Linked DNA regions of Homo sapiens. The protein of the gene in region 4 interacts with the protein of the main gene of each other region in a pairwise test. Each region holds a gene or a part of one and is shown on either strand. Other genes may lie near its edges.

Region 1 (3,282 bases), on a different chromosome or scaffold from region 4:
GATGAGAAACCAGACCCCTTCCCGTGAGTCCACATGCCCCGGCTGCCCTGGGACCAGCTGCCTGGCTCCTACCTAGGTGGCTCTCCTCTCCTTTTCCTCTGCCTTGACCTCTCTGCAGCTCTGATTCTGGAAGATTCTGTCCCCTTAAAATCCATGAAGCAGCACTGGCCTGGGTCTCCCCTCACCCTTCTCATAGGCTTGGCTATTTATCCTTCATCAATTTTTCCCAACTTCAACACTTTCTCATCCCACCTGAAGATTCCCACTTTTCCCCCCCCATTCTCCTTCAGAGGTCCCATTGTCCCATCCAAACCCCCAGCCTGACCTGAGCTTCTGGCCTATCCTTTCTCTTCAGATCCAAACACACACTCTTGAGGGCTCTGTGGCAGACACAAAGAAGTGCCGCTGAGACCTCCTTCAAGAAAGGGCTTGTTTGATTGCTGACAGCCTGCAGTTGTCAGCTCCTTCAGGGTCACCCTAATTTTTCAAGCTGAAGACACACACTGAGGAGGGCCCCCCAGCCAATGATTAAGCAAGACAGTGGCTCAAGGGCCATCTCCACCCAGTGTGGAACTCCTGCAGTGGGCAACCTTTGCCTGGGAGCTCCCCCACTGGCCTGGCAGAGTCTGCATTGCAGCCTGATGGTTCCTCCTGCTCAATCCTGCTCCCCCTCTTTTCATTTCATAGGTGTCATACCCCAATAAGCCGTTCACACACCCAACTCCGACTCAGAAGAGAACTCCTCTTCTTCCTGGAAAACCCAACTGTCACCACCTCCACATCCTACCAGCATCTCGGATTTGTCACATCCAAATCCCCTACTACCACACACACACACACACACACACACACACACACACACACACCTCTCGAATGGCTGCTCCTCCTGACTTTCAGGGCTCCGATCTCCTGGTCACCCACACTTCAACCCTCTCTGCATGCTGTGAATGCCTCTCTTTCCTTATGCCCCAAACCCCTTCACTCCCATGCCATGGAGGTCTGTGAAGGACAGGGACTCCTTTGTCTCCTCACCATTTCTGCTATGATTATGTGAGTGCAGATCCTCGATCCTTCTCACCTGGATGCCTCCTGACTCTGAGGCAGGTTCCTGCTCAGAATCCATTGACAGCGTTCTCACTGTCAAAGCTGATTCAGGACAGACTCCTCACCTGGTCGTTCAAGGCTCTCAGCAATATGGGCCCAAATCACCCATTCATGAAGCCCATTCCCTTTACTCTTAACCATTATAGAACTTGCCCTATGCCTTCTGGCCTCTTTGCCTTTGCTCCTGCCATTCTTTAACCTGGAATTCTTTTTTGTCCATCTTCCACCTCTGTCTATACCTATTCCTTCTCCATTCAGGGTTCTCCTGCCCTCAAGGATGTCAGATGTGCTTCTCCCTCACCTGATCTACCTTTAGTTCCAGTCATTAGTGTAGCTGCTGTTCCTTCTGATGGTCACTGAGTACTTTTAGATATAGCCCAGGGATTCTCTCTGTAGCTTGGCCTGAAGTGCTGAACACATTGCCTTGCACCTGTAGGCTTTCAGTCCATGTGGGGTCAATAAAACCGAATTAACAGCCTCTAGACTGTTCTTCCTGTTGCCCTACCTCTGGCTGGGACCGACTCCTCTGTGCCAAAGAGGAGGTCGATTCTTCCTTTCCATCCAAATTTCTGTGGGGACACTTACAACTTTTTCCTACACAGAATGAGATATAAATAGTGATTTCTCATGTCCCTCTCATGGGAATTCAACCCACTTTCCTCTTTTGCATCCTATTGAAGAAGGAGAGTTTCCACTGTGAAAGCTGAGCCTACAAATGGGGTCATTCTTGTCACACTCAACTAAAACAGAGTCGAGAGGCCAGGGGCAAAAAGCACTCGGGGCACAAAATGTTGCTCCCAAAATGTAATTCTCTACAAATCAGGCTGCTGAAGCTGCCTGCTGCAACCTGAAACCAGCTTTATCTACAGCTTCTGACCTTGCTACAACTCTAGGATTAGTTTTACTCATGCCATCGCTCACCCATCAGAGCTCACCAGCTCCCCAAAACCTATGATCTTTCATGAAGGGCAATATGTAACATTTCTCCTTTTTATAAGCCTCTAACCTTCTCTTTGTTCTAAAGACATACTGGAGACCACCTGGTCTGTGTGTATGCCCCAAATTGCAATTCTCTCCTCCCAAATAAAACGTTTTAATTTTGAAGATTTGGCTCTATATTTTAATTGACCTCATCACCTCGTTAACGTGCCCCCCAACCCCGCACCACCCCAGTCTTACCCCTAGAGCCAGCTGCTCATAACCAATCCTGGCTGTGGAAGGCACAGTGTCCCCAGGGTGAAAAAGAAACTTCTTCAGAGAACCTCCAGCTTTCAGCAGTTGTGTCAAAGCTGACTCCTGGTGGATGTGGACGTTGACGTGGGTGGGCTGGGATGGCCTAGAGGCCATAGCAACTCCATTCACAATCACCGTGTTTTGCGTCATCCTGCCTGCCAGGGAGAAGACATATAGCAGTGAGGTCTGGGAACTAGGCGAGGGAAAAATACACAGCACAGGTGAAAGGAGAGAAATAGTGTCTTTGTCAAGATCCCAGCTGGGCACAATAGCTCACGCCTGTAATCCCAGTGCTTTGGGAGGCTGAGGTGGGTGGATTACCTGAGGTCAGGAGTTCAAGACCAGCCTGGCCAATGTGGCAAAACTCCCTCTCTACTAAAAATACAAAAATCCGCACGGTGGTGTGCACCTGTAGTCCCAGCTACTCAGGAGGCTGAGGCAGGAGAATCACTTCAACCTGGGAGGCTGAGGTTGCAGTGAGCTCAGATCTTGCCACTGCACTCCAGCCTGGGCAACAGAGTGAGACTCCATCTCAAAAAAAACAAAAACAAACAAACAAACAAACAAAAAACAGTGTCTTTGTCAAAATTCAAAGGGGCTTCCCAGTGCAGATATCAATGGCACTGGAAATCAATAGTGATTTTACACATAAAAAAGTTAAGAGATACAAAAGGGTATATATACCTTTAAAACCTTATCGCTCATCTTTTTCCCTCAACCACCTATTTGCCTTGCAGATGCAAAGTAATATTATCAGTCTCTTATAAATCCTACCATGACATTTTTGCATACAAAAGTGTGAAAAAGTATTTCTGCCCCCTTTTCCCACAAATAGCAGCATACTATACACACTGATTTGCATGATGCTGTGATCACACGATCATATGTTTTTAGAATAATCCTACATGAGTCCATAAAAAGTGTCAACCTAAATAACAGAGAGAG
Region 2 (3,500 bases), on a different chromosome or scaffold from region 4:
TGGCTCACGCCTGTAATCCCAGCACTTTGGGAGGCAGAGGTGGGTGGATCACCAGGTCAGGAGATCGAGACCATCCTGGCTAACACACTGAAACCCCGTCTCTACTAAAATACAAAAAATAATTAGCCGGGTGTGGTGGTGTGCGCCTGTAATCCCAGCTACTCAGGAGGCTGAGACAGGAGAATCGCTTGAACCCGGGAGGCGGAGGTTGCAGTGAGCCGAGACTGTGCCAGTGCACTCCAGCCTGGCGACAGAGTGAGACTCCATCTCAAAAAAAAAAAAAAAAAAAAGAGAGATTTTCTGTAAATGAGGGAAGCAAATGCAAAGAAGGCACGGGGCAGAAGGGAGGCTGCTATAATTTGTCTGGGGGTCAGAAGAGGTGACCCTTACCCAGGGTCTGAAGGATAAAAATAATTCCCCAGGAGGAGACAGCAGGTGCCAGGCACAGTGAGAAGCTCTGGGCCACTTGTGGTCAGATGCCTCCTACTGGGAGGACAGTCAGGGTGGAGGCCGGCTAGGTGGTGAAGGGTTGTGCCCGGGAGGCCCTGGGGAGCCAGGAGGGCTGTGAGCGGGAGGAGGGGCAGCTCTGGGTTGGGGGTCCTGGGGGCTCACCAGCCAGGATGAAGTCCAGGAGCTGGAAGGCTGTCTTGAAGCGGGTGCCGGCAATGCGGGTCTCCTGTGTGTCCAGGACGAGGAAGGCCAGGCAGCTGAGGAAGGCCAGGAAGCCGGCTCCCACGGCAAAGCTGCAGGCCACGCTGTTGCTGTTGAGAATGCAGTGGAGCTGCGGAGACTCCATCTTGTTCTGGTAGCCGTCGGTCAGCAGGGAGGAGAAGACGATCAGGGAGAAGACCTGTGGATTTCCAGGGGCCAGAGAAGAGCTCAGTCTCTCCCTGAAGCTGCTCCTCCTTCCTCCCTGGTGCTGTCGGTCTTTCCGTATACCCAGTCACTGGTCCGTCTGGACCTCTCCCTCTTTGACATTGTCACAGTGTCAGAGCCCTCAGCTTCCTGCCCCTCGTCCCCTCTGCTCCATCCTGGCTCAGGCCTCGTCTGCTCTCCTTGGCCCTTGCCCCAGCCTCCTCCCAGCCTCCCCACCTCCAGTCTTCCCCACCTCAGCACATCTCCACCATGGCCCCAGGGGAGTCTTTCCACACCCTGCCCCTCCCTGCCACAGCCCCTCATGGCTCCCCAGTGCCTCAGGACTGAGTCCCAGCCCTGAAGCCTGGCCTTGGAGGCCCTGCAGAGTCTCCGCTTCCCTCACTCTTCCAATTTCATCTCTCCTCACTCACCCCTGCCTCCCCCACACTCTCCTTCTGCCACCAAACCCAGGTACCCATATAAAATGCCTGGCACAGTGCCCGGGACATGGGAAGAGCTGAATCAGTGTTTGCAGTCGTGATTATTCTCTCTGCCTCTCAGCTCTTCCCTCTGGGGTGGTTCTGAGGACTAAACGAGAGGAGGCACTTAGAGCCCTTCCCTCTGCGACTTCTGTCTCTTCCCTCCTGGCCTCACTAATTCCTATTAATTTCTTAGGTTCATTTGCAAGATAGTCCAAGCATACAGAAAAATACGAAGAGAAACATAAGAAACACCCAGTGTCACCTGGCCAAACTAACACATATTAACATTTTGCCTTGTTTTTTGGCTTCGGGATTTTGTTTTAGACAAATACTACGACACTGATCTGGTAACCCTGTCCCTCTCGTCTGTTTTTTTTTTTGGAGACAGAGTCTGGCTGTCACCCAGGCTGGAGTGCAGTGGCGCCATCTCGGCTCACTGCAGGCTCCGGCCCCCGGGGTTCACGCCATTCTCCTGCCTCAGCCTCCCGAGTAGCTGGGACTACAGGCACCCGCCACCATGCCTGGCTATTTTTTTTTTTTGTATTTTTAGTAGAGACGGGGTTTCACCATGCCAGCCACGATGGTCTCGATCACCTGACCTCGTGATCCGCCTGCCTTGGCCTCCCAAAGTGCTGGGATTACAGGCGTGAGCCACCACGCCCGGCCATGCCTGTCTTCTATGTGTATTTGCTAAAAAAACCACGGAAACACTCTATAAACACTCACCCAGGTCATCCTTACAGCCACCCTAGGACACGGGCACTACTCACAGCCCTGTGTTTCAGATAATGGAACTGGGGCACAGAGAGGATAAGGAGTTGGCCGAATCCAATTAGCTGGCCAGTGGCTGGGCGAGGTGGCTCATGACTGTAATTCCAGCACTTTGGGAGGTTGAGATGGGAGGATCGTGTCAGGCCAGGAGTTTGAGACCAGCCTGGGCAACAGAGCGAGACCCAGTCTCTACAAAAATATTAAAAACAAAAATAGCTGGGTGTGGTGGTGCATACTTGTAGTCCCAGCTACTTGGGAGGCTGAGGCAGGAGGATCACTTGAGCCCAGGAGGTTGAGGCTGCAGTGAGCCATGATCATGCCACTGCACTCCAGCCGAGGCGAGAGAGCAAGACTCTGTCTCAAAACAAACAAACAAAAGGCCAAGCACAGTGGCTCACATCTGTAATCCCAACACTTGGGAGGCCAAGGTGGGAGGAATCGCTTGAGCTCAGGAGACCAGCCTGGGCAACAGAGTGATACCTAGTATCTACCAAAACTTCTTAAAAAAAAAAAATTAGCTCAGTGTGGTGGCATGCACCCGTAGTCCCAAGTACTTGGGGGGCTGAGGTAGGAGGATCACTTGAGACCCAGAAGTCAAGGCTGCAGTAAGCCCTGATTGTGCCACTGCACTCCAGGCTGGGTGACACAGTGAGGCCCTGTCTCAAAAAAAAAAAAAAAAATCAGCTGGTCAGTGTCAGAGCCTGGATTTGAACAGAAGTAGCCTGGCTTCTGAGTCTGCCCTTGACCTCTTGCTCTTCTTCCTCACACTGGACCACGCGCCTTGAGGGCGGGGGCTCCTATCAACGAAATTCGGTGAAAATTTGAAGCCCCAGTGATTTGTCCCAGATGGTCACAATGCAGCAGGGCAGGTCTGTGCCAGACAAAGACGAGCTGGTGTGTAGATGGGGTGGTGGGGAGGAGGCTGGGGCCTGGGGTGGGGGAGAGAGTCAAGGTGGAAGCCAGATTGAGGGCTGGATTTCAGGTGAGTTCTGAACTGGACCTTAAAGAACAAGGAGTTTCTCAGACAGACAAGAGGAGGAAGGGCATTCCCGGCAGGGTGGATGGCATGTGGAAAAGCCAGATGCTGCAGAGCGGGCAGTTTCAGAGATAAGAGAGAAACTCACTGGAGGGTTCTGGTGTGAGATGAGGCTGGAAAAGTGGGTGGGAGCCAGGCTCTAAGAGGCCCGGAACACCAGGGCCAGGAGCCGGACTTGGGGAGCCATGGAAAGCATTCAATATTATGCATGGGAGGATTCTGTGCAGGGGACAGCTGGGGTCAGCCTTGGGGTTAGAGAAGCCCTCTGGGGTCACGTGGCTGATGGATCGGAGGTGGGCAAGACAAGAGGCCAACATACCTGAGAGGAGGCGGGGAGGCCCAGGTGAGAAAGGCTG
Region 3 (2,384 bases), on a different chromosome or scaffold from region 4:
GCTGACCAGGGCACCTTCCACCTCCTCCTCCCTCCCAGAAGTCCCTACTTCCTATGGAACTGTCAGGCACACACCAGCAACCTTGGCTTTGGAAAGCACCAGCCAGGCACCATGACCAATGAACCTCTTCCCAGGTCCTTTCAATCTCCTTCCACTTCCACCTGTGGACTGGCCACCTGGCAGCTCTGTCCTGAAAATTCAGCTGGTAGGAGAGGGAGCTGGTTCTGGGGAGGAACATGGAGTGTCGGGGGTGGCTTTGCCTGCTATTCCAGGTTTCCATTCTGGATCCAGCTGGGGCGGGCGGTGACAGCAGGTCGGGTCTAGCGTGGTTGGAGGCAGATATCCCTTCCTCCACTCAACCTTCCCACTCCTCCACAGCTGCGAGGCCAAGGAGGAAAGGTAGGTCAGGAATGCTTTTTTATGGTTGTCACCCTCTTGAGAAGAAGCCTCACTGTTCCCTGAGGATATCCCAAGAAAGACTTGAGCTCTAAGAATAAAACATTCCAAAGGAGTCTTTTCTGAGCACCCTAGACCTGTGTTTGGCCTTTCCACAACCATACCTGCCTTTTTGTAACTCTTTTTTTCTTTCTGTTTTTTTGACTCTTCTACCAAAATGTAACTCCTTTTAACTGTGTTTAAATCGATTATGGGCATCTTGAGCACGAATTGAAGAATGTGAAGCCCAGGAAATGAGGCTAACCTTGGGAAACATGGCGAGGGGAACCATTTATAAGCCGGGGCTTGGGCATCTGGAGTTTAAGCTTGTGGTCCTGGGGCAGAATCTGGCTAGGACAGTGATCACTGAAGCCTTCCTCATATCCTGTCCACTTCTATGAACCGGATGGATGATGGCAGGGAGAGCTAATGTGCAGAACTGAATTACCATTATTATGTGAAACCTTGGTCATCTCGTGTCCTAGAAGAAAAAGATAGTCAAAGCAGTGGAAGACTTCATGAAAAGAAAAAAAAAAAGAAGGAGGCAAATTCCTAGAAGCCAGTGAGCCAGATCAAAGGAGAAATGTCCTTCTAACTTCATAGTAACCATCCCCATCCTGACCCACACTAATACTGCAAGTAATGTTAATGCAACAAAAGGGCTCAGAGGCTGAATTCCTCTCCGTTCCATAGCCTTTCCTCTGCAATCTATACCATCAATCCCCTCACGCCTTCTACTTTCAGCCAGGGCAGGCTGTCAGAGAAGCAGAAACCTAGTTTGGGGCATAGAGGTGGGCCTGATTATTATTAGGTTGAACCATATGAAATTGTTATTATATGACCACTTTTGGCCTACAAAAATGACTATTTCACATTAACTTAATGTTATTTTTAAGACAAGCATAAAAGCTACCATTTATTGAGCAGCTAGGTTGTGCAAGAGACTTTATGCATATCATGCTGTTTATTCTTCCCCACGACCCATAGAGGTGGATACCATTATCCTGATATTTTAGAGGAAGGAGCTGAGATAGGAAAAGATTAGATAACTTGCCGAAGGCCACACACCTATAGCAAATGGTAGACCTTGGCTGGTTGACTGGGCTGCATTTTCTTATCCTACAAAGTAGGGGTAAAAATATATATTCTGGACTCTGAAATACAAAGGTTTGAATCTTGGGTCCACTGGTAACTGTCCGTATGACCCAGGTAGGTTTTTAAACAGTCTAATCATTAGTTTTATTAGGGGTAATGATAAAAAGGTACGTAATAGCTTTATTTTGGGGGACTAAATAAAATAATGCCTGTAAAACACCGTTATTGCACCTGGAACAAGGTAAGTGCTTAAGTGGTAGCTATCACCATAATTCCCTTCTTCCTCATAAGCACACCCTGGAAAGGGCTTCTTGCTCCTGCAGGTCTTTTCATTTTCTTTTCTTTTTCTTTTTTTTCTTGGAGTGAAGCCTTTTCTTTATCACTTCATCCAAATCATCTCCTATCTCCTGTGTTTGAGTTCATCCTTGGGCAGTGGAAAATGAAGAGTCAATGGGAAAACAATCTCTGGGCCTCTAGCCTTAGGTCGGGGGAGGCTGGCTCACTGACTAGTATCCCCATCCTCTCCCTAATTCCAGCTGTGAGCTTTCTGCATTTCTACTGGGGAGAGGGCTGGCGGACTGAGGCTTCTCCATCCTCTCCACGGAAAACCCTGGACTCAGACTGGGTCCTTCTGAGCTGGAGGTACCCTCTGAGAGCAGGGGGACAGGCGGCCACTCCAGGAGTGCCTGCTGCTGTTTTCCTTGCCCCTCCAAACCCACCCTCCAATCAGCTCTGCAGACCCCTAACTCGGTGCTGGTGATGGGCCTGGCTCTCCCGCACCCAATCCTGCCTGCACTTCTCTTTCCTGAATTGAGACATGACTGTCCACCTGGCCCTGAACCTTCTTCGCCTGT
Region 4 (3,500 bases):
AATGAGTCCCTGTGTGTGCAACATCTCAGCATGCAACTGTACATCTGACAGTGTCTATGTTTTTGTGACCCTGCATATGATACTGTGTCTGTGGGAGGGTCTGTGTGTGTGTGTGGGGGGGGGGGCATCTTGGTGTGTGAATGGGTGTCAACTAGTGTGTGTCTATATGTGCAGGAGAGATAGTGTGCATGTGAGAGTGTCTGTGTGTTCCTCTGTGTGTGTGTGTTGGGGACAGTGTCTCAGCATGCGACTGTGTACCTGGCAGTCTGTGAGTGATTGTGTGTGGTGGGAGAGAGTCTGTGTCAGTGTCTCAGTATTGGGAATGTGCTTGGGGGCGTGTGTGATGATGCGTGTGACCGTGTGTCCACGTGGGGGTTTTTGTGACTGTAAGAACATGTGTGTAGTATTCCTTTTCCTGTCCTTTCGTTCAGATATCTAAAGCCCTTAGGGAAAAAAAATGGATTGTAAGCTCTGAGCTTTTGAAAAAAAAGAAAGAAAGAAAGAAAAACAAGGGGCGGTCAAAGAGACAGGGGTCTGTTGATGGAAGGGGTGATTTGACTTCTGGGAGGTGACACAGAGGAAGGAGGTTGGGGTCCTGGGAGGAGATGCCAGGGAACCTGAAGGGCTGGACTTAGTTGGGGGACTCCAGAAATTTGAGTTGGAATCCCTCCTTCCTCCTTCTGAGAGGCCTTCCTGCATGTCTCCCACCTCTGTGCCACCTCCTTCCCGTCACCAAAATGGTCCCCAGAGAAAGAAAGAATCTGATACACTTATTCGCACTGAGAAATAGGAGTGCCTTTCAGATTGGCAGCCAGTGTTTGGAGAGGGAGCCCCTTCCTGGGGTGTTGGAAAGCCCACCACCCCGGGGGCTTCCACTCCACCTGCTTCCTTCTCTGCTGTCCTTCCTTCCAACGCTGCCTGCTTGTACAGGGCTTGAGAAGTCACAAAGATTTTCACCTGCTTTATCTTGTTGGATCTGTGCAGTTTGAGAAGAATGATATGCCCATTTTATGGACGGCAGAACTGGCAACTGATGAGGAAACTGAGGTCCTAAAAGATAAATCGTGTCCCACAGTCCTGCATTAACAGAGCTGGGATTTAGACCAAGAACTTATAAATCGCTGTCCAGTGCTCCTTCCTGTAGACCACACCACTCCCTCCTGGTGTCCTCTTTCCTGTCTCCTGCTTCCTCCAAAAACTCCTGAATCTGAGGGATGCCCCTTCCTTCTTGTAACCTCCAACCCAGGTGTCGTCTCCACGTGCCTTCATCCACCTCAGAGAGATCCCATGAAGCCTGTCAAGTCTTGATTCTAGAAACTGCCATCCTGCCCTTCCCATGGCCCTTTAGACCCCCTCTGACCGCTGCTTTGCTCTCCTGGTCAGCTCTGCTGCCTTGTGAGGGACAGGGACATCTGGATTGCATCCTTCCCGCTACCCAGAACCCACAGCCCCACCTTGTCAGGCTTGCAGCAGGGACTTATGTTGTGGGAGGATGAAATGGAGGAGTGGGGGACACTGGTGGGCAGGGCCTTGCCCCTCCTCACAGGGCATGGGGTCCAAAGCTTCCTCCCTGCTTCACTTTGCCATTGGCTGTGGTTACTGCTGGAAGATCTCACAAATTAAGCAGAATGATTGGTCATTGGACATGAACATATATTCATTTCCTCTTTCTGGGAATATGTTGATCCTAGAAGTGAGGAAGGGGTGGGGCCCCAGTCCCCAGGAAGCCTGGTCACTCCCTCCCACTCTGCCCTTTCCACTAAACAGTAGAAATCATGGGGATTGCTGCCATTGACTGAGCCTTCTCCATGTGCCCACCATCCTAAGCATTAACTCAGTCCCCACAGCCATCCCATGGGGGAGGGGCTGCTGTTCCCTTTTGCACAAGTGTAAGCTGAGCCTAAAACATACAACTCTTGCACTCGGTTGCAAACCTAATATCTGGGTGACCCAGGTCCAGGCCCAGATCTGAGCCCAAGGCCAGGGTTGTTCAGCCTCCACTATGTTACCTGGGCACCCAGGCCCTATGGCACTGGGTGGCCCTAGCCTCATTTACTCAGTCTTTCCCCAGACCAGAACCTCCCATCTGTCCCAGGGCCCACCACCACTCTCTCCCTGCCCCAAAAAATCCTCCTGATAACAGTCCACAGCTCTCCTCTGCTCTCCGGAGCACTGATGTCCCCACCTTTGTACCTTTTCCCTGCTGTGCCCTCCTGCTGAAGTGCCCGCCCTCCTCCTTGCTAGCCCAGTCTGCCTCCAACCCCCTTCACCCCAGCCCCACCTCACAGTCCCCAATCCCTCAGGCCTCTTGAGTCTGCACTGAACCCTGCCCCAACCACTCCCTGAACACTTTCACCCACTGCCTTCCCTGTTATGTCACTTGTCCTGTAAAGCATTGACCCCCGAGTAGCCTGAAGACTCTCTCAGGCAGGGCTCCTGCAGTCACCTTTATACTCCCTGCATTCCCCTCCACCCACGACCACCCAGAACCTGGCACAGTTATGGTTTCTGTAAATACGAGGCGTGGGAGAGGCCAGAAGTCTGGGTAGTTTGCACTGTGTGTGCCTGCAGGGGTGGGATGAAGGCTCGAAGGTATTTAGAAGCCCTGATCTGGTGTAGGGAGGGGACAAGATACTCTTACTGTCAGGAATCCCTCACCTAAGGGGGAGCCACAGCCCCATCCTCAGGAAGCTCCAGTCTGAGGGGAGACACAGCCCCGTCCTCAGGGAGCCCCAGTCTGAATATAGTTTTATGTCCACAGCTCTGCTCAGAGTAGGTGACAGCGCTGCCCTGGGGTGCAGGAGGCCAGATTGGCCTTCATGGCGCTGTCGTTAACCCCTCCCCCCGCCTCTGGGAAGAACTGGCTTCCATACCTCTCTGCCTGCCCCAGACACACCTTCTGCCCCAGTTCCCAGCAGTGACCTTGTGTGTGGTCTGCTTTCATTCTAGAAACAGAAACCAAGGGGGATTTCTCCGTCTCTCTGCCCTCCACCCCCAGCAGCTGCTGCATTTAGGGGCAGCATGGAAGAGCCCTTTACCCGGAGAAGAGGGAAGAAGTGAGAAGGGAAACGGGGCGGTGGGGGTTGATCCACCAGGACTTGCTCTGATGAAAACTGTGCCACCTCCTCAGCTGTGGCTAATATCATGGACAACACCTTTGCAGCTGTTATGTTTGATTTCTTGTTCTTTTTTTCCCCAAGCAAATACAGTTGACCTTTGCCCTCAGAAGAGCTCTGTCCTTCAGGGTAGCCCCTGCCGCCTTGGCACACTTATGCCAAGGATGCTGCTGGGGCTTAAAGTGAGCTGGGCCCTTCCATGGGGCCTCCGAGGCAGCAAGGGGTGAGCAAGGCAACCCAAGTCTCTCAGGGAGGTGTGTGATAAGCCAGCTAGAACCCGAGACTGGATCCAGCATGTGCCCAGCACGCTACAAGGCAAGGGGGCAAGCTTCTAAAAAGAAGCTATTTTAATTTCAGCACACGTGGACATTTTTGTGATTTCAA

What was found. The genes of interacting proteins can lie anywhere in the genome.
Region 1: the proteins of GLP1R (region 4) and TMEM176B interact in a protein complementation assay, tested with the Homo sapiens proteins (one large-scale study listed by BioGRID).
Region 2: the proteins of GLP1R (region 4) and SYNGR4 interact in a protein complementation assay, tested with the Homo sapiens proteins (one study listed by BioGRID).
Region 3: the proteins of GLP1R (region 4) and NRGN interact in a protein complementation assay, tested with the Homo sapiens proteins (one study listed by BioGRID).

The regions. Positions count from the first base shown.
Region 1 is NC_000007.14:150,794,083-150,797,364, forward strand, and holds part of TMEM176B (transmembrane protein 176B), read right to left. Parts: intron 2,493-3,282; coding exon of another isoform or gene 2,488-2,492; coding exon 2,284-2,487; intron 1-2,283. UniProt on the Homo sapiens protein: May play a role in the process of maturation of dendritic cells. Required for the development of cerebellar granule cells.
Region 2 is NC_000019.10:48,370,867-48,374,366, reverse strand, and holds part of SYNGR4 (synaptogyrin-4), read right to left. Parts: intron 851-3,500; coding exon 613-850; intron 1-612.
Region 3 is NC_000011.10:124,742,942-124,745,325, forward strand, and holds part of NRGN (neurogranin), read left to right. Parts: intron 1-1,320; exon of another isoform or gene 1,321-1,954; intron 1,955-2,384.
Region 4 is NC_000006.12:39,051,781-39,055,280, forward strand, and holds part of GLP1R (glucagon-like peptide 1 receptor precursor), read left to right. Parts: intron 1-3,500.